Linked DNA regions of Homo sapiens. The protein of the gene in region 2 purifies or fractionates together with the protein of the main gene of each other region. This does not show direct contact. Each region holds a gene or a part of one and is shown on either strand. Other genes may lie near its edges. The genes, in order: ECD and TTC27.

Region 1 (15,300 bases), on a different chromosome or scaffold from region 2:
TATATATATTTCTGTTTCTATTTCTTGTATTTGCTGTCTGTCCTTTTGCTGGAATGTTATTCCCCTAAATAACTGAATGTCTCACTCCTTCACTTCATTCAGGTCTCTTTTCAAAGAAAACTTCCTTAGAAAGGCCTTCCTTGACTAATCTATCTAGAAGAGCAGTCTCTACCCCTCTACCCCACACACTGCTTTTTCTTCATAGCACTTACCACCCCCTAATATTACATAATGGCTTGCGGTCTTTCTCCTACATTAGCATGTAAGCTCTATAAGGACAAGGACACTTTGGGTTCATTTATTATATCCCCAGTACCTGGAATAGGGCCTGGCACATAGGAGGCATTCAATAAATATTTGTTGAATAAATGAATATATATGTATCTATAAATAATGTATTGTTTTGTTTTGAGACGGAGTCTTGCTCTGTCACCTAGGCTGGAGTGCAGTGGTGCGATGTCGGCTCACTGCAACCTCCACCTCCAGGGTTCATGCGATTCTCCTGCCTCAGCCTCCCGAGCAGCTGGGATTACAGGGGCGTGCCAACACGCCCAGCTAATTTTTGAATTTTTAGTAGAGACAGGGTTTCCCATATTGGCCAGGCTGGTCTTGAACTCCTGACCTCGTGATCCACCCGCCTTGGCCTCCCAAAATGCTGGCATTACAGGTGTGAGCCACTGCGCCCAGCCTGTATAGTATTTTGTATATTTAAAATTTTTATATGTGTAACATCCACACGGTATATATTTTATTCTTTTTCATTTTCATTTTTAATTTTTGTGGGTACATAGTAGGTGTATATATTTATAGGGTATATGAGATGTTTTGATACAGGCATGTAATGTGAAATAAGTACATCATGGAGAATGGGGTATCCATCCTCTCAAGCATTTATCCTTCGAGTTACAAACAATCCAATTACACTCTATGTTAAATGTATAATTAAGTTATCATTGACTATAGTCACCCTGTTGTACTATCAAATAGTAGGTCTTACTCATTCGTTCTATTTTTTTTTTTTTTTGGTACCCATTACTGTACGTATTTATAACTTGCTTTTTTTTTTTTTTTCACTGCATTATGTTTTTGAAATCTATTCATTTAGATCAGTGGTTCCCATTTAGATCAGTGGTTCCCAACCAGGGACGATTTTGCCGCCCAGGTACCTCTGGCAATGTCTGGAGACATTTTTGGTTGTCATGATTGGGGGATGAGGGAGAAGTGCTATTGATATTTACTGGATAGAGGCCAGGGATGCTGTTAAATGTCCTATGAAGTGCAAGCCAGTCCCTCACAATAAATTATCAGATCCAAAATGTCAGTAGCACTGAGGTTGAAAAATCCTAAATCAGATATATGTAAATATAGTTCATCTCTGGTTAACTACTAGATAGCAGGCTATCATATAAGTACACTGCAATTCATTTATCCATTATTGATGGATACTTTGGTTGCTTATAATTTTTCACTATTACAATCTCTGATAAATTAGGGGAAAGTCTATGATATTATACGTAGGAGCTAAAAACAATTCTAAACTGAGAGACAGAGAGCAGAATAATGGCTGGCTGGGTGCAGTGGCTCACACTTGTAATCCCAGAACTTTGAGAAGCCAAGGTAGGGGGATCTCTTAAACCCAGGAGGTCAAGATTGCAATGAGCTATGACTGTACCACTGCACTCCAGTCTAGGCAACAGAGTGAGACTCTATCTCAAATAATAATAATAATAAAAGTAGAATGATGGTTACCAGAGGCTGGGAAGGGTAGCAGAGAGCGGGGGGAAAAGAGGGGATAGTTAATGGTTACAAAAATTAGTTAAATAGAAGGAATAAGAGCTAGTGTTTGCTGCTCTGCCTATGGAGTAGCCATTCTTTATTCCTTTACTTTCTTAATAAACATACTTTCACTTTACTCTATGGACTTGCCCAAAATTCTTTCTTGCATGAGATCCAAGACCCCTCTCTTGGGGTCTGGATCTGGAATGCTTTTTAGTAACATCTTCCTGGCAAATCCCAAAAAATATTTTTTAAAAAATTAAAAAGAGCTAGTGTTTGGTAGCACAACAGGGTGACTACAGTTAATAATAATTTATTATATAGTTCCAAATACCTTAAAAAAATGGAATAACTAAAAATATTCCCAACACAAAGAAATGATAAATGCTTGAGGTGATGGAAAGCTTAATTACCCTGATTTGATCATTATACATTGTATGCCACATGGACATTATACATGTAATCACATGTACCCCATAAATATGTACAACTAGTATGTATCCACAATAATTAAAAATAAAAAATTAATGGCTGGGTGCATTGGCTCACGCCTGTAATCTCAGCACTTTGGGAGGCCAAGGTGGGTGGATCACCTGAGGTCAGGAGTTTGAGACCAGTCTGGCCAACATGGTGAAACCCCATCTCTACTAAAAATACAAAAATTAGCCAGACCTGGTGGTGCATGCCTATAGTCCTAGCTACTTGGGAGGCTGAGGCAGAAGAATCACTTGAACCCGGGAGGCAGAGCACTGCACTCCAGCCTGGGTGACTAAGCGAGTCTCTGTCTAAAATAAATAAATAAATAATAATAACAATAAATGAAAAAAAGTGAAAATGAAAGGTAAATCTAAAATAAAAGTCTACGATATTAATTCAGCTATTTTAAAAAAACCACAAACTTTGGGAATTCAACAACAGGTCTGGAGGGAGATGGAAGTTTGGTTTTAAACTGTTTAAAAATTATCCTGGTGTGCAGAATGGGAGCCTCTCCTGCAACATAAATTAAAATGTTGGACATTTAAGCTACTTGTAATTTTTTCCCCAACAGTAAAAAATAGTTGAGTAAATTATGGGGGTACATCCATTTGCTGAAATATTGTGCAGCTTTTTTTTTTTTTTTTTTTTGAGATGGAGTCTCGCTCTGTCCCCAGGTGCAATCTCAGCTCACGGCAACCTCCGCCTCCTGAGTTCAAGCGATTCTCCTGCCTCAGCCTCCCTAGTAGCTGGGACTACAGGCACGCACCATCATGCCCAGCTAATTTTTGTATTTTTAGTAGATACGGGGTTTCACCATGTTGACCAGGATGGTCTTGATCTTTTGACCTCGTGATCCGCCTGCCTCGGCCTCCCAAAGTGCTGGGATTACAGGCGTGAGCCACCGCGCCTGGCCATATTGTGCAGCTTTTAAAAATTATGTTTATAAAGACTTCATAATGCCATGGAAAATGTGATATCATGATGAGTAAAATTACATAGAGGAGGATGCAAAATTTCTTTCGTTGTTTTTTTTTTCTTTTTTGAGGCAGAGTCTCACTCTGTCATCCAGGCTGGAGTGCAGTGGTGTGATCGCTTGAGCCCAGGAGGCGGAGGTTGCCAGCCTGGGTGACAGAGTGAGACTCCGTCTCAAAAAAATAAATAAATAAGAATAATAAATAATAAATAAAAAATAAAAAGAACTACCTAAATACCAATCTTTGTAGTAGGAGTCTTAACAATAACTCACCTTTCTGGCCAGTCTACTGAGAGCTGGAAGTAATTCTCTGCCATTTCTAGCCTTTCCCGGTACTGAGCAGAACCTTCTATCAGTCCCTTAAAAAAAAAAAAAGGTCTATCAGAACATTACTCACAAGTTGTCATGAAAAAAATGTGTTCACCAGCAACTTTCAGGGAGGCAGCAAATAATCTACTACTCAGGAATCACGTGCCCCAAGTCCTAGGCCCTGTTTTATCATTAATGGGCCTGTTTGAGCTCCAGTTTCTTCAAATGAGGGGACGCGGCTAGATGTAGTGATTCCTAATCTTTTCCACCATTAAGGGCCTATTTCCAGTTTGGAAAGTTTTCCACCATTTTCTTTTACTTAATTACTTATTAAGATATAATTGGCTGGGTGCGATGGCTCACGCCTATAATCCCAACACTTTGGGAGGATGAGATGGGCAGACTGCTTGAGCTCAGGAGTTCAGGACCAGCCTGGGCAACATGGTGAGACCCTGCCTCTATGAAAAAAAAAATTAAATTAAAGATATAGCTGATTAACTAGTAATTCACAAAACAAAGTACAGAAAGTTTGCCAAGTAGAATAAAAAATGGCAAAATCCCACCATTACTATCATTTGTGTTTTCTAAATGCATATTTATAGTGATAGTCATACTTAGTATTTTACATTTTTTAAGAATATACTAGCTGGGCACTGTGGCTCATGCCTATAATCTCAGTACTTTGGGAAGCAGAGGTGGGAGGGTCACTTGAGGACATGAGTTTGAGACCAGCCTGGGCAACATAGCAAGACTTCGACTCTACTAAAAAGAAAAAAAAACAATCTTTAGCCAGGCAATGGTGGCACATGCCTAGTCTCAGCTATTTGAAAGGCTGAGGCAGGAGGATCACTTGAGCCTAGGAGATCGAGGCTGCAGTGAGCTATGATCCTACCACAACACTGGCTTGCGTGACAAAGCAAGACCCTATACAACAACAATAACAACAACAGTAATAGCTGGGCACGGTGGCTCACGCCTGTAATCCCAGCACTTTGGGAGGCCAAGGCGGATGGATCACCTGAGGTCAGGAGTCCGAGACCAGCCTGGCCAACATGGTGAAACCCCATTTCTACTAAAAATACAAAAATCGGCTGGGTGTGGTAGTGTGGGCCTGTAATCCCAGTTACTCAGGAGGCTGAGGCTGAGGAGAATCGCTTGAACCTAGGAGGTAGAGGTTGTAGTGAGCCAAGATTGTGCCATTGCACTCCAGCCTAGGCGACAAGAGCAAAACTCCATCTCAAAAAAAAAAAAATACCATATATATACTATAATATCATTAGTACTTTTCGTATTGCTGTGCCATCTTTATCATCATCATATTCTTCGGGACTTTTCCACTTCTTGGATATTTCCTTTAAAAAGATTATTCAAAGTGAAGGTTCCAAGTTTGAACCTTTCTATACCTCTTGGAAGACACTACCAAATTACTTTCCAGTTAAGATTCTACCAGTTTGCAATGTTACCAGCAAGGTATAGGAGTGTTATTTTTACCATACTCTCGACAGCACAGAATATCATTCATATCCTTTTGTACATACATGAAAGACATTCTTCATTACTGTGTTCATATATATATATATATATCTTTACTACTTGTGAAGTTGAATATTTTAAGAGAAATTTACTAGGTATCTTTTAATAATTTTTAAAATCCACATCTTTGCTAATTTTCCTATCTGGTGTTTTCATGTTTGCATTATCAAGTTTTTGCAAGTTGTTTTATCTGGTACAGATAATCACTTTCATCATTTAATACCAACAGTGTTAGTTTTTCTCTAATACTGGAAACAGTTCATAGATACCTCCTTCATTAGCACCTGAGTACCACTGAACTAGAAAGGTCTCCTTTAAGTCTAGCTTCCATAATTATGTCATACATTTAAATATGGACTATAGGACTTTAAGTCGCTGGCTTGATTTTCCCTGGATTGAATACTTAAAAGCAAATATATTGCAAGTCCTACCTTAAAGTAATCATTCTTTTTCAGACTTTCAAGGAAACTGGCCCAGAGTGGTGAGGCAGTCACAAGGGATTTCTTGCAGTCAGAAAAATGTGGGCTACATTTGGAGCATAAGATCTCAAATCCATGAGCCTAGATGAGATAGGTAGAATTTTTGTTACTAAGTTCCTTTTTTCCCGTATCTTATTATAACACATTACTTTTTTTCCATTGAGCCACACTCTAGAACTAGATGACTGGATACATGGGCATTTGGACAATTATAACACTTTTTGAATTTTATGAAAAATATAAACTTATTCCCAAGTTTCTCAATCATTATAGATTACTAAAAACATAAAAGGAAAGAAAATAATATACAATAAAGATTCCTGTTCTCTTCAAAGAGATTCCTTTTCCTGCTGATTACAAAACCAGAAATTTACATTTATTTTTTGTTTGATTATGAACAGGGTTACAAAAGGTTTCTTGTCCAACAGAAATTATACATATATTGAACATGATCTCAGACATAGTAAAGAGAGGAAATCACTTCATTTTAAAAGTCCTTTGATTAAAAAAAATAATAGATGCACATGGCTAAATAATTCAAACAGGGAGCTTCCCTGATCAAGCTAGAGAACACCATTACCAACTTCTTGCACATCCTTTCAGAAGTAACCTACACACTGAAGTATTATGTGTGTGCCTCTCTGTATGCATAGCTTTCTACTCCACCCCTTTTGTTGCTCAATGGACGCATACACACTACTCTACACCTTGCTTTTTACACTTAACCATATACCTTGGAGATCACTTACATGAGCACACACAAATTCATCCATCTTACTTCATGGCTAGAGCACAATTTATCTAACTATTCCCCTACTAATGGACATTTAAGTAGTTTCCAGTCTCCTGCTACTATGAACAATGCTGTCATGACTATGCTCCATATATGTCCTTGTATATAGGTAAAATACATAAAGAATCATTTTCTAGAAGTGAAAATGCTGACTAAAAAGGTTTGTGCATTTTAAATGTTGATGAATACAGATGGTCCCCAACTTATGATGGTTTGACTTAACATTTTTTGACTTTATGATGGTGTGAAAGCAATATGCATTCAGTAGAAACCTTACTTACAATTTTTATCTTTTTGCAGGCTAGCAATATGCATACTGTCTCATGATGCTGGATACACAGTGGCAGCAAGCTGCAGTTGGCAATGTGATCACAAAGGCAATCAACCAATACTGTACTCTATAGTATACTGTATTCAATAAATTACATGACATATTCAACAGTTTATTATAAAATAGCCTTTGTGTTAGATGATTTTGCCCAACTGTATGCTAATGTAAGTATTCTGAGCCCATTTAAGGTAGGCTAGGCTAAGCTATGATGTTTGGTTGGTTAGCTGTATTAAATATATTTTTGACTTATGATATTTTCAATTTTTGACAGGTTTATCAGGAAGTTACCCCACTGTAAGTCAAGGAACATCTGTTTTGCCAAAATGTTCTCCTAAGGGATACAATCAATTTATATTCCTATCAACAATGTCTGAGAATGTTTTTCTGTATATATTCTCAACAACCCAGTATGTATTATCAAGCCGTTTGATACTTGCTAATAAATGATGAAAAACACTATTTTGAGGAAGAATCAATATCGTAAAAATGGCCATTCTGCCCAAGGTAATTTATAGATTCAATGCCATCCCCATCAAGCTACCAATGACTTTCTTCACAGAATTGGAAAAAAACTACTTTAAAGTTCATATAGAACAAAAAAAGAGCCTGCATTGCCAAGTCAATCCTAAGCCAAAAGAACAAAGCTGGAGGCATCATGCTACCTGACTTCAAACTATACTGCAAGGCTACAGTAACCAAAACAGCAAGGTACTGGTACCAAAACAGAGATATAGACTAATGGAACAGAACAGAGCCCTCAGAAATAATGCCACATATCTACAACTATCTGGTCTTTGACAAACCTGACAAAAACAAGAAATGGGGAAACGATTCCCTATTTAATAAATGGTGCTGGGAAAACTGGCTAGCCATATGTAGAAAGCTGAAACTGGATCCCTTCCTTATACCTTATACAAAAATTAATTCAAGATGGATTGAAGACTTAAATGTTAGACCTAAAACCATAAAAACCCTAGAAGAAAACCTAGGCAGTACCATTCAGGACATAGGCATGGGCAAGGACTTCATGTCTAAAACACCAAAAGCAATGGCAACAAAAGCCAAAATTGACAAATGGGATCTAATTAAACTCAAGAGCTTCTGCACAGCAAAAGAAACTACCATCAGGGTGAACAGGCAACCTACAGAATGGGAGAAAATTTTTGCAATCTACTTATCTAACAAAGGGCTAATATCCAGAATCTACAAAGAACTTAAACAAATTTACAAGAAAAAAACAAACAACCCCATCAACAAGTGGGCAAAGGACATGAACAGACACTTCTCAAAAGAAGACATTTATGCAGCCAAAAGACACATGAAAAAATGCTCATCATCACTCGCCATCAGAGAAATGCAAATCAAAACCACAATGAGATGGTAATCTCACACCAGTTAGAATGGCGATCATTAAAAAGTCAGAGAACAACAGGTGCTGGAGAGGATGTGGAGAAATAGGAACACTTTTACACTGTTGGTGGGACTGTAAACTAGTTCAACCATTGTGGAAGTCAGTGTGGCGATTCCTCAGGGATCTAGAACTAGAAATACCATTTGACCCAGCCATCCCATTACTGGGTATATGCCCAAAGGATTATAAATCATGCTGCTATAAAGACACATGCACACGTATGTTCACTGTGGCACTATTCACAATAGCAAAGACTTGGAACCAACCCAAATGTCCAACAATGATAGACTGGATTAAGAAAATGTGGCACATATACACCATGGAATACTATGCAGCCATAAAAAATGATGAGTTCATGTCCTTTGTAGGGACATGGATGAAGCTGGAAACCATCACTCTCAGCAAACTATTGCAAGGACAAAAAACCAAACACCGCATGTTCTCACTCATAGGTGGGGAATTGAACAATGAGAACACACGGACACAGGAAGGCGAACATCACACACCGGGGCCTGTTGTGGGGTGGGGGGAGGGGGGAGGGACAGCATTAGGAGATATATCTAATATAAATGACGAGTTAATGGGTGCAGCACACCAACATGGCGCGTGTATACGTATGTAACAAACCTGCACGTTGTGCACATGTACCCTAAAACTTAAAGCATAATAATAAAAAAAAAAAGAAAATCTAGACATTCCTATCAATGTCTAGATTGTAACATTTTTGAAAGCAAACAAAAAAAAAAGAAAAACACTATTTTGTAGCTTTAAAGTGCATTTCTTTTATTATGAGTTAAGATTCAATATTTTTCATATGTTTAAATTAAAGGTCACCTGTATTTCCTTTTCTGTGGACTATGTTCATAGTTCTGAACATTTTAAAATTAATTGGCTAGTATTATCATTTTCATATTGACTTAAAGGAACACTTTATGTATTAGAGAAGTCAGCTCTTTTTCATTTAGATTGCAAATATAACACTTTTTCCAGATTTGCTTTTGACTTTATTTATGGAGTTTTTCTTTCCCGTGCAGAAATGCTTAATTTTTGCATAATCAAATTCATCAGTCTTCCCTTTATAGCTTCTGGTTTCAAGTCATGCATAGAAAGGCCTTTCCTATTCAAATTATAAAAGGTTCTTGGTTTTTTTTCAAATTGTATAGTTTCAATTTTTATGTTCAAATATTTGATCCAATTGGAATTTATTTTGGTATAGGTATTAGGGAATCAACTTCAATTTTTCAGATGACTTCAGACTTGTCCCATCATCACTTACTAAGTAATCCATTTTTTTCATTCTAATTTGAAATGCCACATTTTACTGCATTCTTACATAAACAGGGTGTATTTCTGGACTTTGTATATTGTGCCACTATTCTATTAAGAGTCCATTTACATAAAGAAAGGAAACAACATTTTCTGGTTCAACATTACCAATTTCATGCCCAATTCATGGGCTCGGTACTGGGGATCAGATGGAGGAGGCAGCCTGTATCCACTCCGCCGGTCTGGCACAAACCTTTGTTGCACCAATTGTGCATATAGACATTTAGTGAATGTGACCTGGGCATCAAGACACAAAATACATGAGTCTTTTCCTGAAATTAAGATTGTGAATAACACTTCACAGTTAAATATAATGAGAAGTCCATTTATAAGCTTCATATTCATATGAAATGCAAAGAAGATTCAACCTATTCATTGCCTACTTGTTTTTAGTAACAGCTTTATTGAGATACAACTCACATACCATAAAATTTACCCTACTGCTGGCCAGGCATGGTGGTTCATGCCTGTAATCCCAACACTTTGGGAGGCCAAGGTGGGCAGATCATCTGAGGTCAGGAGTTTGAGACCAGCCTGGCCAACATGGTGAAACCCCATCTCTACTAAAAATACAAAAATAAGCCAGGCATGGTGGCGCACGCCTCTAATCCCAGCTACTCGGGAGGCTGAAGCAGGAGAATTGCTTGAACCCGGGAGGTGGAGGAAGTTGCAGTGAGCTGAGATTGCTCCACTGCACTCCGGCCTGGGCAACAGAGCAAGACACTGTTGCAAAAAAAATTTTACCCTACTGCCTACTTTTTAGTAATCGCTAGTAAAATTCTTATCATTAGTTACATTATACAGCAATTAAATGGCTGGAAGATAAAGATAATTCATTTTTTCTATTTCTGAGACAGGGTCTTGCTCTGTTGCAGAGACTGGAGTGCAGTGAGCAATCATGGCTCACTGAAGCCTCAGGGATAGGGTTTCACCATGCTGGCCAGGCTGGTCTCAAACTCCTGACCTCAGGTGATCTGCCCACCTTGGCCTCCCAAACCTCCTGGGGTCAAGCAATCCTCCTACCTCAGCCTCCGAAGTAGCGGGGATTACAGGCGCCCACCACCACACCTAGCTAATTTTTTTATTTTTTGTAGCGATGGGGTTCACCATGTTGCCCAGTCTGGTCTCAAACACGTGGGTTCAAGTGATCCACCTGCCTTGGCCACCCAAAGTGCTGGGATTACAGGTGTGAGCCACCATGCCCGGCCAAGAATAATTCTTAATTCTCTGGAAGAGATGAAATGTTTTATTGTTAAGAAGGAAATAATTAGGCTGGGTGCGGTGGCTCACACCTGTAATCCCAGCACTTTGGGAGGCTGAGGTGGGTGAATCACTTGAGGTCAGGAGTTCGAGACCAGTCTGGCCAACATGGCGAAACACCATCTAAAAATAAAAAAATCAGCTGGGCGTGTTGGGAGGTGACTGTAATCCCAGCTACTCGGGAGGCAGGAGAATCGCTTGAGCCCAGGAAGCAGAGGTTGCAGTGAGCTGAGATGGCTCCACTACACTCCAGCCTGGGTGAGAGAGTGAGACTCTGTCTCAAAAAAAAAAAAAAAAAAAAAAAAGGAAATAATTATAGAAATAGAAACATATGGTCAAAAATAGCTATAAAACATTGAGTATAAAATGGGGAGGCAGGTCTCTTGAAAATTTCCTTCACTGGGTGCAAGAAAAGAAAAAACGTGTATAGTTTGAGCATCCCAAATGTAAATATCTGAAATCTAAAATGTTCCAAAATCCAAAACTTTTTGAGTCCCAACGATATGCTCAAAGTTTTGAGATTTCAGAATTTTCAGATTTGGGATGCTCAAGTAGTAAGTTTAATGCAAATATTCCAAAATCCAAATAAATCTGAAATCTGAAATACTTCTAGTCCCAAGCATTTCAGATAAGGAATATTCAATCTATATTAACATGCTATGAAGAAACAGAATATTTCCTTTTTTTTCTAGAGAACAATTAAAATAATGTTTCATTCACTGAGCACTGAGAAATGTAAAAAGAAAAAAATAATAATGTTTCAACTCGGTTTCCAGTAAGAGAAACTAAATGACCAAGATAGAAATCTCACCGATGTCATTATTCGTGTTTCAGGCAAGAATGTCTTGAAAACACGACAAGCTCGCAGGTCAATAGGGTCTCGTAGGTAAAATGCCTGGACTGCTGCAGCCACCAATCTGGGGCGCTGCTTTAGCACTGCCACAATGCCAGCTGGAAGGAAGCAGTGTGCTCGATGAAGTGAGGCCTGAATTTTTTCTGGGTACCTGGGACAGGTAACATAATTACTTTCATTTTACAGTATATAAATACCTATAATTCTTATACCATTCACATTCTTTTTGACATCTCTTTGTTCATCAAGAGCAGTACGTAGAGAGTGACAAGAGAGATGAAAAAAGATACTGTATATACACTTAAGAATATACGAGAGAGGGAAAGAAAAAAGTAGGAAGAAATGGAAAATAAAGAAAAGGGATTATTGTAGCTCTATAAAAACAAAACAACTTTGGGAGGCTGAGGCGGGTGGATCACGAGGTCAGGAGATTGAGGCCATCCTGGCTAACACGGTAAAACCCCATCTCTACTAAAAATACAAAAAATTAGCTGGGCGTGGTGGCATACGCCTGTAGTCCCAGCTACTCGGGAGGCTGACATAGGAGAATCGCTTGAACCCGGGAGGCAGAGGTTGCAGTGAGCCGAGATCACGCCACTGCACTCCAGCCTGGGCGACAAGAGCAAAACTCCATCTCAAAAACAAAACAAAACAAAAATACCTATTATACTTTGGAATAAAGATAAAATCAGAGTTTATTCTTCTAAAAGAATGGTACAAAGTATGCTGAAGCTAAAAGAGATTTTTATTTTTTATTTATTATTATTTTTGAGACGGAGTCTCGCTCTGTCGCCAGGCTGGAGTGCAGTGGTGCAACCTCGGCTCACTGTAACCTCCACCTCCCTGCAACCTCCACCTCCCAGGTTCAAGTGATTTTCCTGCGCTCAGTCTCCCAAGCAGCTGGGACTACAGGGGCCTGCCACCACGCCCGGCTAATTTTTTGTATTTTCAGTAGAGACGGGGTTTCACCATGTTGGTCAGGATGGTCTCGATCTCTTGACCTTGTGATCCACCCGCCCTGGCCTCCCAAAGTGCTGGGATTACAGGCGTGAGCCACCGCGCCCGGCCAAAAATATTTTTAATATTGTTAATACCTGAATGGTGCTTAATATTTAATAGGCACCCAAATTTGAATGGATGAACGAATATGTAATTAGGCTAAGACCTTTCTTTTCTGAATAAAAGCTAAAGTTTTATTCAGAAACTGAATTCTGACATAGGTCAAAGAATCCCATATACAGACCCAGAACAACAGAAAAAACCTGAGCACCTTGTTTGTGCTCCATTAGGTTTCTACTTTTTTTTTTTTTTTTTTTTTTGAGATGGAGTTTCCTACTGTCGCCCAGGCTGGAGTGCAGTGGCGTGATCTCAGCTCACTGCAACCTCCGCCTCCCGGGTTCAAGCGATTCTCCTTGCCTCAGCCTCCAAAGTAGCTGAGATTACAGGCACCTGCCACCACGCCCTGCTATTTTGTTTTTGTATTTTTAGTAGAGATGGGATTTCACTATGTTGGCCAGGCTGGTCTTGAACTCCTGACCTCATGATCCGCCCCCTGCTCAGCCTCCCAAAGTGCTGGGATTACAGGTGTGAGCCATCGCTCCAGGCCCATGAAGTTTCTATTTTTAAAGGTCTCAAATTTTTTACCCATGGATATAGCTAATACTTAGCCACAATATCTAAGGTAAATAAATGCAAAAATATTGGGACAAGATTGTAACACTTCTGAATGGGAATTTAAAGATGTATCTGTTTCCTGATTTTAAAATCTGTAAGTTTAATTTACTAGTCTATTTCATAAAGAGGAATGAAGACAAAATGAAAATTAGCATTAATCTAGGTGAAAGGTATTTTATAGTCAAAGAAAGACTGATCAACTCCAACAGAGCTTTAAGGAAAACAAACAAAAATCAAAGAAAGACTGAACTACACGAAACCAAAAGGTTCCTTAATTAGCAATGAAAGTGATATTTTTCTTACCCTCTGATGCGCCTATTCACAGCAGCTCGTATAGATTCTGAAGCAAGTATTTTTTCTGAATGTGCTGTGATTATATTCAATGCTTGTGGAATTGTTGGGGGTGTGGTGGGTAACCAAGATTCTGCTCCAGATTTTCTTGGTGCAGGGATAATACACAATTCCCCATGGCAGAAAAATACCTGCAAACGGTACATTTCAATTTTCACAGTGGGCACTGGCAAACTGCAGGTACATATGAATGTAATGCAGCATGATTTCATCTCTATAAATTTTCTAAACTTGGGTATACTTACCCTATTGGTGCTATTTTCAGGATCCAGCCATTTAGGGAGAAAGTCAGCAGCTTCTATTAACAAGAATTCACCATCATTGTCTTCAATCCTAATGCAAGAAAATTTCCAATTTTGCATTCAAAAAGCATATATCTGCTAGTAACCAAAACAGTTTCATTCTAATACATTTTCCTCTTCATCTTAGTAAATATTTGAGTATGTACTATGTGCAGATGGCTATAAGAAAGCAAAATATTTAAGATAACATTAAGCACTGAAGGAGACTGTAAGATTGTAAGGAGGAGTTGAAGGTAGATATGATAAGGAGAGAAGATAAGCAATTTACATAAAGAAATATTAGACAAAAATATGAAAATATACGAAAGTACTATAGGGTTCCAAAAGAAAAAAAAGAAACACATAGCTGAGATTAGAAAAGCCTTCATGTAGGAGGTGTTATTTGGGCCTGAAAAGATAATTATTTCTGCCTCATTTGCATCACTTTTTTTTTTTTTATTTTGGAGACGGAGTCTCGCTCTGTCACTCAGGCTAGAGTGCAGTGGTATGATCTCGGCTCACTGCAACCTCCACCTCTTGTTTTCAGGCAATTATCCTGCCTCAGCCTCCTGAGTAGTTGGGATTACAAGTGCCCGCCATCATGCCCAGCTAATTTTTGTATTTTTAGTAGAGACAGGGTTTCGCCATGTTGCCCAGGCTGGTCTCGAACTCCTGACCTCAAGTGATCCGCTCACCTCAGCCTCCCAAAGTGCTAGGATTACAGGTGTGAGCCACCACGCCCGGCCCGTATCACTTTTTTAAATTTAATTTTTTAAAATAGGTTATACATTCACATGGTTACATTTTTTAAAAAAATGTATTAAAAGTTACATGGCCAGGTGCAGTGGCTCACGCCTGTAATCCCAGCACTTTGGGAGGCCGAGGTGGGCGGATCACCTGAGGTCAGGAGCTCAAGACCAGCCTGACCAACATGGAGAAACCCCGTCTCTACTAAAAATACAAAAAAAATCAGCCAGGCGTGGTGGCCCATGCCTGTAATCCCAGCTACTCGGGAGGCTGAGGTAGGAGAATTGCTTGAACCTGGGAGGCAGAGGTTGCGGTGAGCCGAGATCGCACCATTGCATTCCAGCCTGGGCAACAAGAGCGAAACTCCATCTCAAAAAAAAAAAAAGTTACAAAATAAAAAAGTCTCCCTCCTACTTTTGTCCCTATCTGCTCAACCCTACATGCATCACTGCTGTTTCTTGTATATCCTTCTAGAGTTTGCTTACACATAATCTAACTATAGAAATATATACTTGTATTTTCTCCCTTTTTTACACAAGACATGGCATATTTTATATACTGTTATATATCGTTCTAGCTCTATACTTCTATTTTTATTATTTTATTTTATTTTATTTTATTTTATTTTTGAGACAGAGTCTCACTCTGTCGCACAGGCTGGAATGTAGTGGTGCAATCACACTCACTGCAACCTCTACCTCCTGGGCTCAAGTGATTCTCCTGCCT
Region 2 (15,779 bases):
ACTGCTCACACCAAGTAGAAATATCAACTGTTGTCTGCATATAAGAATGGTTAAAGAAATAAATATGAACTACTATCACTGTATAATCTCAAACACACTATTCCATTTCAGTTTTATTAAGAAAATAATATCTATCAACATTTATTGAGACTATCCTAGAGTATTACCAAAAAAAAAAATTTCTAAAACTTAAAACAATTTAGGTTAGCTAGGCACAGTGGTTCATGCCTGTAATTCCAGCACTTTGGAAGGCCACGGTAGGAGGATCATTTGAACCCAGGAGTTCAAAACCAGCCTGAGAAACATAGTGAGACCCTGTCTCTACAAAAAAATTAAAAGTTAGCCGGCATGGTGGTACATCCCAGCTACTCAAGAGGCTGATGCATGAGGATTGCTTGCAGCCCAGGAGTTTGAGGCTGTAGTAAGCTTTGATCATAGCACTGTACTCCAGCCTAGATGATAAAGCGAGACCCTGTCTCTCTTAAAAAAAAAAGAAATTAGGTCTACAATATCCAATATTATAGCCACGAGCCAAACATGGTTTAAATTTGCATTAGTTAAAATTAATAAAATTTATAATTCAGTTCCTTAGTCATACTTTCCATATTTCAAGTGCTCAATAGTTAAGTGTGGCTAGTGGCTACCATGTGGGCAATGAAGATAGAGAGCACTTCTATCTCCACGGAAAATTATCTTGAACGGTGTTGATTTAGGTTCTGATCAGACATCTATAAGTTTTTCTTGCACTCCCTTTAACAGCTCTGATGTTGCAAGATGTATAGAAAACTGACTTTATACAAAAGAAAAGTGATGATATAAAGTTGTTGCTAATTGTTTACCAATCCCATACCACCAAATGCTAGAACAACAACAACAACAAAACATATAGATATTTTAGTGAAAACTCTATTTTTCAGTCTTGCTGTGATGTGAGACAGGGATAGGCAAACTTTTTCTAAATATGAAATATTTTAGGCTTTGCATATCATGTTTGTTTTTTTCCAACCCTTTAAAAATGTAAAACCCATTAATTCTTAGCCACTTAGTTAGCCTGCCAGCCATAATGTGCCAAACCCTAAATTAGGATCTAAATAGGTACAGATCCAACTCTAGCAAATAACAGCCAGGGAATCCTGGAGTTTCATTCTGAAGAGAAAGTATTAGTAATCACTTTTTTCCCCACAGCCCCTAGGCCCTTCCTTAAAAGGAAGAGTCTTTCAGAAAAAGAAAAAAAAAAATCAAACATACAAGCCTATGGTAGCAAAAATATAAAACTCTGGATGCAATGCAAATAAGCAGCATTAGAGAAAAAAGATAACAAAAGAGCTGGTATGCAATCAGAAGTTTGGAAATTTGGAGAAAACAGCCTTAATAAACTGTCCTAATCAAAAAACAAAATCCATAAGGTGAACTGAAAATACACTTTAACTTTCAAATGTCTGAAAATGAGTCAACTGAAATGTCTCTTTTTAGCTTTATGTGACAAGATAGAAATCTGGTATATCAGTGAATAATGCATTTGTGTGAATGTGTTGTTTTAATGGGTGCCACAAGGCTAGTTGCTATGAGAGTGCACACATATAAGAAAGCAATGAGAATCCAGCCGGGCGGAGTGACTCATGCCTATAATCCCCACACTTAGTGAGGCAGAGGTGAGGATTGCTTGAGCCCAGGAGTTCGAGACCAGCCTGAGCAACATATCAAGACACCATCTCTACAAAAAGGAACTAAAAAAAAAAAAAAAAAAGAATGATACCAAAGGAACATAACTACCAGTAAACTAAAAAAAATTAAATGGAGGCTGGGCGAAGTGGCTCACGTCTGTAATCCCAGCACTTTGGGAGGCCGAGGTGGGCAGATCACCTGAGGTCAGCAGTTCAAGACCAGCCTGGCCAACATGGTGAAACCCCATCTCTACTAAACATACAAAAAAAATGAGCCAGGTGTGGCACAGGCCTGTAATCCCAGCTACATGGGAACCTGAGGGAAGAGAATCACTTGAACTTGGGAGGCGGAGGTTGCAGTGAGCCGAGATCACGCCTCTGCACTCCAGCCTGGGCAACAGAGTGATACTCCATCAAAAAAAAAAAAGAAAAAAGAAAATGAATAATATTAATTTTCAAAATAAAATTAAAAGCCTGTAGTAGCATTCTTTTGCAAACTCCTTATGAATATGGGTTATGCTTTATTCATCCTCAGAACCTCCACATCTACTACAATAGTTTATTTGTTGAAGGACTAAATGAAGCTATTTCCTAGAAATAATGGTAAAATAAAATTGCATGCATTTATAAGATAATTAAAGCTTGACATGGTTGCCACAGATAGTAGACGAAAGATAGAGGTATCAAATTTATAACAATGAAATATAAGCCACTGAAAAGCTTAGGTTTCCCTGCTGTGTAACTATCTGCTATACTTAACCCTATAAAATTACACAAACTTTAATGGAAGAAGGTAAACCAAGGGCTTCCTTACAAAAACATTAAGTTCTCTGAGCTCTATAAAGATAATAATCTAAAACATAATAAATAGTTACAAATTAGCACTCAGCTATGCAGAAATAACAAGATTGAAAGTATGTTTTTTGTTTTTTGGTTTTTTTTTGAGACAGAGTCTCGCTCTGTCGCCCAGGCTAGAGTGCAATGGCGGGATATTGGCTCACTACAACCTCCACCTCCCAGGTTCAAGCGATTCTTCGGCCTCAGCCTCCCTAGCAGCTGGGATTACAGGCGCATGCCACCATGCCCAGCTAATTTTTGTATTTTTGTATAGACGGGGTTTCACCATGTTTGCCAGGCTGGTCTTAAACTCCTGACCTCATGTGATCCGCCCGCCTCGGCCTCCGAAAGCACTGGGACTACAGGCGTGAAGCACTGCACCCAGCCTGAAAGTATGTTTTTAAGTTAAAGGAAATAAGGTCTGAAGTTTTGCCGGTGGGTAAAGCCGACCAGACCTAAGCATTTGCAGTTAACACCAAAATATGTGCCAGTCTCATATATGAAACCATTTTATCCTGCACCACTTTACTTCTTCATTCTGGATGGACTTCTGGATGAGTTTTTACATAGATTACTTGGTACACCATGAGTCTTGAGTAAAATATAAGGCAAGGTTTCTCAACTGCTAAAATCAGGGCCTTACCCTGTCAAGGTGCTATTAAATGTATTTGCTCTGTTCCTCTATGAAAATTTCAAATAAAATTCTACCTTTCCGTTGTGTCCAAATCTGTTGAGTAATCCAGGAATGTTACTACCTGCTTCTCCAGGTAGCTATCAATCTTTTCTTCAGCGGTTGTTGTTGAATTAAAAATATTTTGAGTCATTGAATTTAAGAATATGGCTTCATAGTTCCCTTCCAGTAGCAATTGTAGGAAAGATCCACTCTCTGTAATATAAAAAATTAGTGCGGTAATCCAAAAAAAATTATTTTTCATACCGTAAAGGATAACACTATTAGGTAAATCTACCATTTTAGTGTGCAAAAACAATCTATAGACTTAGAATGATTACTGTATGTCAGTCACAAGGCACTCAGTAAATTTCCATCATTCTACAAACATTCTCTCTCCTAGAATTAGCAGCTCACTCATACTGACTATGAGCCCCAAAGTGGAAGTCAGCCCCAGAAATAATATTCCTCATTAATAGGTATTTAGTCTTTTGCTGGGAAATTCACAAAGATTCCTACTGACAATACAAAAGTTTCCTTAGTCAAGGTTCTAAAACTTTTCACAATCTGGTTCTTTCTACCTCCATTATTTTCTCTTCTTGAAAAGTCACTCCAAGAGCGCTGGTTTACTCATTGTTTCCCTAATGTCCCATGCGTATTCCTGCCTCCACACTTTGCACTTGTGATATCGCCTGTTGAACTCTTCTCCACTTGTTAGTCTTACCCTTTAATCCAAAATCAGCTCAAGTCTAACTTCTTCTAGGAAAGTTTTCCAGGCCACCAAAGTTCAAACTTCCTGTCACTGGAAGCACCTACTGTGTCACACAAGTGCCCACACACACACACATACACACAGAGTACTTACACACTACACTGTTCATTATTACTCTTTTGGGTCCAGCCTAAATCCCACAACCAGATGTGCCAGTGCATGTGCCTTTTAACTCTTTATCTCTCTGGTAAATATTCATTGCTCACAAGAATTAATCTTTGCCTCCTAGGCTGGGCGCGGTGGCTCATGCCTGTAATCCCAGCACTTTGGGAGGCCGAGGTGGGTGGATCACGACGTCAGGAGATCGAGACCATCCTGGCTAACACGGTGAAACCCCGTCTCTACTAAAAATACAAAAAAAAAAATTAGCTGGTCGTGGTGGCAGGCGCCTTTAGTCCCAGCTACTCGGGAGGCTGAGGCAGGAGAATGGCGTGAACCCGGGAGGTGGAGCTTGCAGTGAGCCGAGATCGCGCCACTGCACTCCAGCCTAGGCGACAGAGCGAGACTCTGTCTCAAAAAAATAAAAAAAATAAATCATTGCCGCCTAGGCCGTGCATGGTGGCTCATGGCTGTAATCCCAGCACTTTGGGAGGCCGAGGCGGGTGGATCACCTGAGGTCAGGAGTTCCAGACCAGCCTGACCAACATGATGAAAGCCGTCTCTACTAAAAACACAAAATTAGCCGGGCATGGTGGTGCATGCCTGTAGTCCCAGCTACTTTGGAGGCTGAAGCAGGAGAATCGCTTGAACCGGGGAAGCGGAGGTTGCAGTGAGCCGAGATGGCACCAGTGCACTCCAGCCAGAGCAACAAGAGGGAGACTCCATCCCCCCAAAAAAACAACTTTGCTGCCTCATTTTAGCTCCTCTGCTTACCAACAGTGTGACCTTAAATAAATTACTTAACCAGACCCGGGCGCGGTGGCTCAGGCCTGTAATCCCAGCACTTTGGGAGGCTGAGGCAGGCGAATCATCTGAGGTCAGGAGTTCCAGACCAGCTAGGCCAACATGGTGAAACCTCGACTCTACTAAAAATACAAAATTAGCCGGGCGTGGTGGCGCATGCCTGTAATCCCAGCTACCCTGGAGGCTGAGGCAGGAGAATCACTTGAACCCGGGAGGCGGAGGTTGCAGCGAGCCGAGATCGCGCCATTGCACTCCAGCCTGGGCAAAAAGCAAAACTCCGTCTCAATAAATAAATAAATAAATAAATAAATAAATAAATAAATAGATAAAATAAAATTACTTAACCCAACTGTATTTACAGATCTTCACCGCAAAATGGGATTAAAAATTGAATCTACCTTAAGTATCTACTATAAGCATTAAATGACTGAGTACATGTTAAGGGCTTAGAAAAATAACTGACATTGCCATTGTCATTATTACTGAACCTGGGCGGTAAGAAGTTTTGCGCAAAGAAAGTGAGGACCACGCCCACCATGTCAAAGACTAAACGACCCAAAGCCTCAAGGAATCAGCTAGACTGTGTTAGGGAAAAATGAAGGGAGGGATGAGAATCAGTCGCTGCCATCCCTTTTCCTCACAGTTCCCACGATAGCCTAAGGCCCGGTAGGTGCGCCTCTCACCTGAACCGACGACCCCCTCCTGTTTCCATTGCTGCCGCTCAGCCTCAGTGGGGAATCCCCTCAGAATTGCCAGCTCCGGGGTCCACATCACCCCAGACACCGCTGCAGCCAAAACAGGCTCCCACGAGGGCCACACGGGAGTCAACAAAAGAAAGTGAAAACAGGAGAGTCCAAAGGCGCTGAAATCTAGTGGCGACAGTTACCGTAAATACACCTGCGGCCCTAGAATTCCATGTGCGGATACTACCTCAAGGAGGCGGCCATAACAGCAGCGCGGGGCACCCTGGGAAAAACACGCACGCTCTCTGGTCTGGCTTCCGCCTAGGAGAAGAACCCGAGCTTGAGTAAGGAGCCTGTTGGGTGGTTATGCCCCACCCCGGGGCGGGCAATAGGGGGAGTTGAGGGCGCGGTCGCGCTCAGCCCCGCCCCCAGTGGGACCGCTTCCAAGAACTGTGAACGTGGAAGTGAGTGTGCCTCCCACCGAGGGCTAGGGTTCAAATGCAACTCAAAACGGACGTCTTGGCCAAAGCAGTTTGATTAGAAGGGCTAGAGTTGTGATTCTTAAAGCATTTTGGGTTAGAACGCTCTCGACAACCCGATGAAAACCACAGTCCTTCGCGCAGAGTGCAGGTGGGCCCTTGCTCTCAGCCTAAGGGTACCCTCTCAGGGAATCACAGACCCTCTGACGTGGAGTCGGTGAAGCCCAGGTTGGAACCCCGTCAGCATAGCATGGGTCTTTCGGCGAATGAGCGTGTAAGGAAAGGATCTGGTTTTGACACTGCTCTACATGAATCATGGCCGGGTGGGAAATCTGCCCCTGCCGCTGGTGCAGGGAAGTTTTTGGAACACTGTCGGAACGCTGTAGAAGAGTGATCCCAGGGGTGATCACAAAGAAATTGCAAGGAGACAAACCAGCCTCCGCTGGTACCTTATTTGCACTTCTTTGAATCTTCCTAGCAGCACTCCAAAGAAACAGTTAGAGGGCGGGCGCGGTAGCTCACGCCTGTAATCTCAGCACTTTGGGAGGATGAAGCGGATGGATCACCTGAGGTCAGGAGTTCGAGACCAGCCTGGCCAATATGGTGAAACCCGTCTCTACTAAAAATACAAAAATTAGCCGGACGTAGTGGGGCACCCCTGTAAACCCAGCTACTCGGGACGGTGAGGCGGGGGAATTGCTTGAACCCGGGAGGCGGAGGTTTCAGTGAGCTGAGATGGTGCCACTGCACTCCAGCCTGGGCAATAGGAAAGAGGGAGGGAGGGAGGGAAGAAGGAAGGAAGGGAGGGAGGGAGGGAAGGAGGGAAGGAAAACAGGACTATGGCTTTGTCCCATTGGCTTGACACCTGTACTGAGATATGTCATGTAAGAGCCAGGAGAAAACTGCAGGGTAACTCTGACCACAAGAGCAAAAGCTCTCTGAAAAGAGGCTGACCCGGTACCCAGCTCCAAGGAAGAAGCTAAATAAATGTTAATTCACTTTCTTACTCAGTAAAGAGCCACTCCAGAATGTGAAGGGAGAGGAACTCAGCTCAGCTCATTTCAGCCATTGCCATCAGATACCAAAGGAAGCCGGACCTGACTGTGATTGGAGAAGAGCGGATGCCCTAAAATGTCCTCCCACTGAGAAGTAATTAAAAACTGTTTTTCAGGCCGGGCGCAGTGGCTCACGCCTGTAATCTCAGCACTTTGGGAGGCCGAGGCGGGCGGATCATGAGGTCAGGAGATGGAGACCATCCTGCCTAACAAGGTGAAACCCCATCTCTACTAAAAATATTTTTTTAAAAAATTAGCCGGGCGTAGTGGCGGGCGCCTGTAGTCCCAGCTGCTCAGGAGGCTGCCGCAGGAGAATGGCCTGAACCCAGGAGGCGGAGGTCGCAGTGAGCCAAGATCGCGCCACTGCACTCCAGCCTGGGCAGCAGAGCGAGACTCCGTCTCAAAAAAATAAACAAACAAAAAAAACCCCACTATTTTTCTAGAAAATGATACTTGACCAGGTTGTCTGTTCATTTCCTTAAGTATAAAAGCCAGCACTGTCTAAACTAATTTGATAATTGTTAAAGATGAACGTCTGTAAAAACACACTGGCCGCTCTGCCAAAGTTCCTCACCTGTATGTAGCACCCCGTTAATCCACATAGTAAACTTGCAACTTTCAGTTAAATTCAAGGTTGGTTTGTTTTAAATGTGGTATGCTAGATGATGATGGTGACTGAAGTCTGCCTAATCTCCCTTCAAGCAAAGTGAATTCCAGTAATAAAGTAGGTGGGGAATATGGTCTCGATTAAAAATATGTACATAGTGAGTGGAAATTGAGCAGGCAATGAAATATCTACTGTAGGATTCAGTATAGAATGCCTTGGCTGACGAGTCTATTGGGATCCTGTATGTCACTATCTAAAAGTCTTTTTTTCTTGGGCTGGTCAGATTTCTCCAAAAGACTCTTTAAATCTCCTACCTGGAAGGTGAGGCTCTGGCTGCCACAGTTCCAGGGCCCAGTGGAGATAGAAAGCCAGAAGTCTCCATATTCAAGACTAAGAATGAGGTAAGTGAGAGATACTTTTAACAGAATTTAGGACTATCCTTGGCTTATTTTATGCCTCTAATCCATGTTGTTTCCTTTCTCGTCTCTTATGTCAAGTAGTTCCCAACCTATTACAAAATCTCATCTTCTCTAAACTAGTGATTCTAGCTAAATGTTTATAGTAATGTTTGGTCTACAGTAAAAAATAAATACAATTATAACACCTCTATTTTGAAATACTGTGTGACAAGGAAACAAGGTTTTGCATCGTTTCTTCCAAAAGGAGAAAAAATAGGAAGGAGGATGGCTGGAGATGTAAATTCAACAAGTATTACAAGAGGCTAGGAGATTGGAGAAAATAATGGTGCCATGGGAGCATCAGAGGGGTCAAGGAGGACCAGATCAGAGTTTGGTTGCACTGACTAGAAGGAAGCACAGGGCAAGGACTGGCTCACTCTCTGAAGGAAAGCGGTGGTTGCAGGGCCATTGTTCCGAGGCACACAGGGTTTGGAAAGAGCAGGGGACCAACGGTGTCAGAAGAAGGAAGAATTGTTATGTCAGGAGAAGCCTTCTGGAGAATATTGGTCTTGGGAGACCAGATTTTAAGCTTCATACAACAATTTTATAAAAAGCATTATTCAGGTATAATTGGCATAAAGTGCACATATTTTAACTGTACAATTTGTTAGGTTTTAATTTAGGTATGTACCCATGAACCATCACCACAATCAAGACGGTGAACACATCCATCACTCCTCAAAGTTTCCTTGTTCCTCTTTATAATCCGGCCCTCTTGCCATCCCCATCCTCTACACTCCAAGCAACCACTGATCTGCTGTCACTATTGATGAGTTTGCATTTTCTAGATTTATATAATGGAATCATACAGTATATACTTTTTTTCTGGCTTCTTTCACTTAGCATAATTATTTTGATATTCTTATATAGTACGTATCAATGTTCATTTAAAAAATATAACTGAAGAGTATGTATTGTATGAATACATCACAATGTTTATTTATTCATCTGTGGAGGGATGTTGAAGTTGTTTCCGGTTTTTGGCTACTTCAAATAAAGCTGCCACAAACATTTGCAAACACTGTTAAAAATTATTATTAAATGTGAGCTCTGTTAATGAATATGAAAGGAGATGGAAGGGTCATGAAATGCTATTCGCAATCCTGACTTCCTTATGCTTGAGCTAATGACAAATCCAGCCTCCCTTTCACCACTTAAAAAGATAGGAGACAGAATTAGTTCAAACACATGGCTGGGTGTGGTGGCTCACTTCTGTAATCCCAGCACTTTGTGAGGCCAAGGCGGGCGGATCACCTGAGGTCAGAAGTTTGAGACCAGCCTGGCCAAGATGGTGAAACGCCGTCTCTAATAAAAAAATTAGCTGCACGTGATGACACACGCCTGTAATCCCAGCTACTAGGGAGGCTGAGGTGGGAGGATTGCTTGAACCCGGGAGGTGGAGGTTGCAATGAGCCGAGATTGCACCACTGCACTCCAGCATGGGCGACAAAGCAAGACCCAGCTGGGTGTGGTGGTGCACACCTATAATCCCAGCTACTCGGGAGGGAGGCTCAGGCATGAGAATCGCTTGAAGCCGGGAGGCAGGGGTTGCAGTGAGCTGAAATCATGCCACTGCACTCCAGCCTGGGCGACAGAGCCGAGGCTCTGTCTCAGAAAAAAAAAAGTTTTACATCTTAAGTCTCATAGGTGCTAACAGATACTAACAGAAGAGGGGAACTATTGTTTGAGTATACTGAGGACTGGGCGCGGTGGCTCACACCTGTAATCCTAGCACTTCAGGTGGCCGGGACGGGCGGATCACGAGGTCAGGAGATGGAGACCATCCTGGTTAACATGGTGAAACCCCACCTCTATTAAAAATACAAAAAAGTAGCCAGGCGTGGTGGTGGGTGCCTGTAGTCCCAGCTACTTGGGAGGCTGAGGCAGAAGAATGGCGTGAACCCGGGAGGTGGAGCTTGCAGTGAGCCGAGATCCCACCACTGCACTCCAGCCTGGGCAACAGAGCAAGACTGTCAAAAAAAAAAAAAGAAAGAAAGAAAAGAAAAATAGAAGATGGGGTGAGGTGGGGGTCACCTGCTAGAAGCAAGGGCAGGCTGATTGAAGGGAGGGGTAGTTGGTATGCTTCCGTATCTCCATAGTGTGATGCTTTTTCCCTAGCAGTTGGCAAATTGAGACCAACTGATAGAGATTAAGTTATCAAGTACTAAACATAGGGTCTAGGACATAGATACCAAAAAATGTTAGCAATTCTTAGCTAAGTATTAGGGGTTCCTCGTTTGAGGCAGACGAGGGTATAGTTTTCTCATTGCGAAATCAGAAGCCAGATGATTGAAGAGTATAGGCTTTTCCTAGAGCTGCATGAAGTCTTCTCAGGGATCTGTCCTTCCTTGGCTCACAATCTAAGGTGATCGCTTCGGCTCAGAGACTGAAATTGGTGATAACTGGAAGACTCCCAAAATACAATTGAAATGATGAATATTATTTATTTATTTCATTAGACTGACAGCTTCCTGGGGGTAGGGTCAGACTCTTACATGACATTTTATCCCAAGAATCCAGCACATTGCAGAGCAGGTACAAGTGCTCAGAACAAGTTAAGGCACTATCTTTCCTTGGTAAAGAGGCATTTACAAATGACACCTAAGGGTAGGTGAGCTTCAGGCCTTTCTAAGCTCTCCCTTGCTAAACTCCTTTGGGAGATTAACTTTGCCCTTTGGGTCAAAGGAAGTATTTGCCTTGCTTCAGGAAGTAACTGCTACCTTTGGGGTATGGAGACAACCAGGGGGAAGATTTTTTTTTTTTTTAAACCAAAACTAACATATGAGTGATTTGGGCTTGAAAAAATATTTTTTCTCATTTGTGAATTTATATCAAAAAATTCTGACAAAGTCTTATAAAAAGAGAAGAAAAAAAAAAACCCAACAGGACAAATATTTGAAAATTGGCCAGGCTTGGGAAATCTCATACTTATCTGGCAAGAAGGGCAATAACAAAAATAGCAGCTCCCAGAAAGGCGGCACAGAGGAGCTCTAGCTGGTTCCTCTAAAGATGAGAAAAGCTCCAGAGCTGGAAGGCACTCTATGGCTGCATTTGCTGACTTTGCAGACAGCAAGGTGAAAAAGGGAAGGAATAAACCAAAGAACAAAACCTATAGAAAGGCTGGGGGAAAGCAACAGCAAGGAACAGAAGTGGTAGGAATAAGAACGAGGGAAATGCCTGTCTACCTTTTGACCCAGAGGAGTACAGGGAGGTGGGGAGGGGCAGTATCCTGGGGACCCCAGCAGGCAGAAGTGTCTAACCTGAGGCCGTAGGTCTCCCAGCGGCCCAGGGCAGCCTGCAGCTGACATAATTGGACTGGGTATTCCCTCCCTGGAGAAGTGAGACGTGAATAAAACTGAAAACAATTAAAATGGTGGTGGGCTGCAGTCTCTTCCTGCACAGGAAAACAGCTAGTGCAACCTGAAGAGGGACACACATGAAGGAAGCAATGGAAAGCAGACTTTTGGTGGAGCTCATGGGAGCACTACGAGATCACATCCAGGAACTAAGGGAGAAAGAAGGCCAGAGAATGCCTCTTCTATACAGGAAATGTATAGGCTCACAGGGTTCACGTCAGCCCCTTTAGAGCTTGAAGCATCAGGAGGCTAGAAGCTGAGAGAAAGGAGGCTTGGATGGCTGCTAGAAACTGGGCAGAGTTTGAAGAGGAAAGAGAAAGCAGGATGGAGCTTCCTTTCAACATGGCTTGTATCTTCCATCCACATGTGGACTCTGGCTTGTCACCACCATACCTGCCTCTGCAGGGTGCGAGATGGGAAGCAGCTCAAGCCTGTTGCAATTCAGTTGCAGCGAAGCCTGTAACAATACCAAAAATCAATCTCAGTTAGAAAATATATAGCCTTTTTTTTGCCTTTGCATAGGGAATAACTTCAAAGGAATAAAATGCAATTAAAATCAGAAAGGAACAGATCAATAGATGACTTCACGATTTAAATTTTTTTTTTTTGAGACGGAGTCTCGCTCTGTCACCAGGCTGGAGTGCAGTGGTGCGATCTGGGCTCACTGCAACCTCTGCCTCCTGGGTTCAAGCAAATCTCCTGCCTCAGCCTCCCAAGTAGCTGGGACTACAGGCGCCTGCCACCACGCCCAGCTAATTTTTGTGTTTTTAGTAGAGATGGGGTTTCACCATGTTGGCCAGGATGGTATCGATCTCTTGACCTCATGATCCACCCACCTCAGCCTCCCAAAGTGCTGGGATTACAGGAGTGAGCCATTGCACCCGGCCGGCCCCACAATTTAAAACTTCTATGAGAAAAATTAAACAAAAATTAAAAGGCCATCTGGACAAATACACAGAAGTTTGACAAAAACTAATATTCTACTATAAGTAGCTGATACATACTAAAAGACTCTAAGAAAATACACAAAATAGGGAAAAGGTATAAACTGGTAACTGACAAAAGTAGAAATTCAAATGGGTAATATAAACAATGTTCAATGCACATTAAAACATGTTTGATGATAATAAAATATCAGATCAAAAAATTATATAATCTCCAATGCTGGCCAACGCATGACAACACTAAAAGATTTTCCAAGTGTGAATCAGTACCTCTCAGGAAAGCGGTCATTATATATCAAAACCTTTGACCTAGGAATTCTACTTCTAGGATTTATCATAAGAAAATAAAGATAAGACCATGCTCATCACAGCATTAGTTATAATCAGAAAAGCAGAGACAAAAGCAATTCCAAACTGTCCAACAGTAAGAGATGGGTTAAAAACATCCATTAATTTTCTTTTTAAGACACGGTCTTGCTGTTGCCCACAGTGGAGTGCAGTCACGTGATCTAGGCTCACTACAGCCTCCATGTCCTGGGCTCAAGCAATCCTCCCACCTCAGCCTCCCGAGTAGCTGGGACCACAGGCATGTGCCACCATGCCCAGCTAATTTTGCTATTTTTTGTAGAGACGGGGTTTTGCCATGTTGCCCAGGCTGGTCTCAAACTCCTGAGTTCAAGCAATCATTCCGCCTCAGCCTCCCAAAGTGCTGGGATTACAGGTGTGGGCCATCATGCCCAGCCTACAGTACATTTTACATTTGTCTGACTTTGGAGATTTTTGTCTTAATGCTAGGAAAGTATTTAAGCAGTTTTACTTTTTGTTTTTTTACTGTTCATTAAGATAAAAACTTTATATAGTTAAAAGTTTCACAAATAGACCAATTCACTTTACTGATTTTCACATCTCTTCAAGTTCTCCGCATGTGCTCTTGGACCCAGGTCATTTATGTCTGTTAGGCTTTGCTCCATCCTTCCCCAAGGACTTCTCCCCTGGCTCCCTAGCCTGAAAACATGCTAAAGTTATTCTCCTAACAAATATATGTATTTCCCAAAGTCCTGTCAATTGTCTCTTAATCTCCACAGTTTATGTGCCCTAGTTTATGACCTATTGCTTGGATGTGAGCAGGCTTTTAACTGATCTCCTCGCTTCTCAACAGGTTGCAGAATGATCTTCCTGAAATAGACTAATCAGGTTACTTCCTTAGAGCTACTTGTGAGCTCTCCTTTACCTACAGGAAGTCAAAGTTCCTTAACAGGGCAAGCAAAGGCCTGGGATGAACTGACCCCTCCTCTCTTTCCAAAACCACTGCCTCCCATCCCTTTTGACTATCCTCACTTTGCCTGTTAAAAATCCAGTAACATCCAATATGGTGCCATCAACCTGAGCTCTCCTTTTGCTCTCCTGTGTCTGGATTATCTTGTTTCTGCCTGGCTAACTTCTTTATCCTCATCCTTCAAGAATTAGTCTGCACTTAGAAAGCTTTTCCAGACCATTATCACCTCAGTGCCCACCCAACGTTTTGCCTGAGATAAGGATTCTCCTCTGTGCTCCCAATATTACCCTGTAAATAACTCTACCAGAGACCTTACCAGATGGCACTGACATGTTTTCATGTCTGTCATTCACTCCTCAAGTGCAGGAACTTGGAACTAGTAAAAAATGAGTGCTCAAATGTTTGTTGACATAAAGTCTGGATCTCAAATGGAATGTTTTAATGTAATTGGTTCCAATTTAGGTGTTTAGACTTTGGTTTTTAAAAAATATGAACTGGACCTTATAGTACTGGTATTGTTACTTTCATTTTACATGGAAGACAAACAATACATTTGATACAGCTTTTATCATCCAGCACTCACAGTCCAAAAACAAACAAAAACAACAAAAAATAGCCTAAAGGATTAATGACTGTCCTTTATTATTGCTGATAATTTTATACTTAGATTTTAGCTGGCATGTCTGTGGGTGACATAATTTTTTTCTTCTTGTAAACTACCACTATTTTGTCATTTTCGGTGTAGCTCACTACCCACCAGACCTAACACTATGTGTTTTAGAATCTTTGATTTCCTGTCCAAATACTATTCGTTTCTCCTTTTTCCATGCTGAAGGAGCTTTATACTTTGTACATAAGAGAGTATCATTTCCCCAAGATCCCCTTTTTCATCAGAGAGCAACTCGCCTTTCAGAATACGGCTTCTCCTGGTCAGCTCCAGATTCAGGCGTCAGCTCCAGTTCCTGCCTCAGCCTCCTGAGTAGCTGGGATTACAGGCACCTACCACCATGCCTGGCTAATTTTTGTATTTTTATAGAGACATGATTTCATCGCATTGGCCAGGCTTGTCTCGAACTCCTGACATCAGGAGACCCGCCTGCCTTGGCCTCCCAAAGTGCTGGGATTACAGGCGTGAGCCACCGCGCACAGCCGCCACTTTTATTTTATAAAAATACTGTCAAAGAATCACCTTAGCCTTTCCCCTGCGGCAACTGGTCTTGGAAAAACATGCTTTGTTTTCCCATGCTTAAGTCTTGAAAGTGTTCAATTCTTTATAGAAATAGCATTTCACACCATGGCAAAGGGGTTTAGAAACAAGACATACTAATTCACCTAAGTCTTTATTTATTTGGCTCTAGGAAGAATTTGCATGAAAATGAGCCTGTATGGCAGGTACAGAATGTACTGTAACAGCACCAGAGAGGTACATCCTCTCTCCTCTACAGAGCCTCAATGTTTAATACATACATGTGACTTTAGTCATAAAACCACATAGTCCAGGAAAAAAGGAGCCCTTTAGAAAAAAAAAATCAGTTTAGAATGACTTTCAAATTGACCATTCCTTTTCAAATACTTAAATTCAAATAACAGATACATTCAGAGGCCCAAATGTTGGCATAGAATAAAATCATGTTCATTTATTTTTTTCTGCATCTTAGAATTAGAAGGCATAAAATTAAATATGTTGAATGTAATAAATTCATCCATACAAGTGCAAGTCTCCAGATATAATGCATTTTATGGCAGATTTATTATTTTAAAAATGTACCAGTAAATCAAAAAAGAGGGAGTATGTCCATTTAACTTTTATTGAAGTGTATGTAGGAGGTCTTCAGAAATCAAATGTGAGCATGAAGATATGGCCAAACATAAAATCTATCAAATTCAGTGAAAAGTTGCTGACTTTAAATAGTAGTTGTAAGAATGACCAATATATATTCTTTGTTAACAACCCCTCACTCTATAGTAAAAAAAAAATAAAATAAAATAAACATTCAGTAAACATTCTTTCCTAAGGTAGTTTCCCTTATATAGCAGTGATTTATCCATTTCTTTGTATACACAAATTTGTTGAA

What was found.
Region 1: the proteins of TTC27 (region 2) and ECD purify together in Homo sapiens (affinity purification with mass spectrometry; 2 studies listed by BioGRID and IntAct, with this or other methods). This does not show direct contact.

Annotation. Positions count from the first base shown.
Region 1 is NC_000010.11:73,142,777-73,158,076, forward strand, and holds part of ECD (protein ecdysoneless homolog), read right to left. Parts: intron 13,880-15,300; coding exon 13,792-13,879; intron 13,678-13,791; coding exon 13,499-13,677; intron 11,673-13,498; coding exon 11,480-11,672; intron 9,646-11,479; coding exon 9,517-9,645; intron 8,930-9,516; exon of another isoform or gene 6,943-8,929; intron 6,836-6,942; exon of another isoform or gene 5,694-6,835; intron 5,629-5,693; coding exon 5,500-5,628; intron 3,586-5,499; coding exon 3,500-3,585; intron 1-3,499. UniProt on the Homo sapiens protein: Regulator of p53/TP53 stability and function. Inhibits MDM2-mediated degradation of p53/TP53 possibly by cooperating in part with TXNIP. May be involved transcriptional regulation. In vitro has intrinsic transactivation activity enhanced by EP300.
Region 2 is NC_000002.12:32,618,131-32,633,909, reverse strand, and holds the start of TTC27 (tetratricopeptide repeat protein 27), read right to left. Parts: upstream 5,861-15,779; 5' UTR 5,618-5,860; coding exon 5,530-5,617; intron 3,388-5,529; coding exon 3,210-3,387; intron 35-3,209; coding exon 1-34.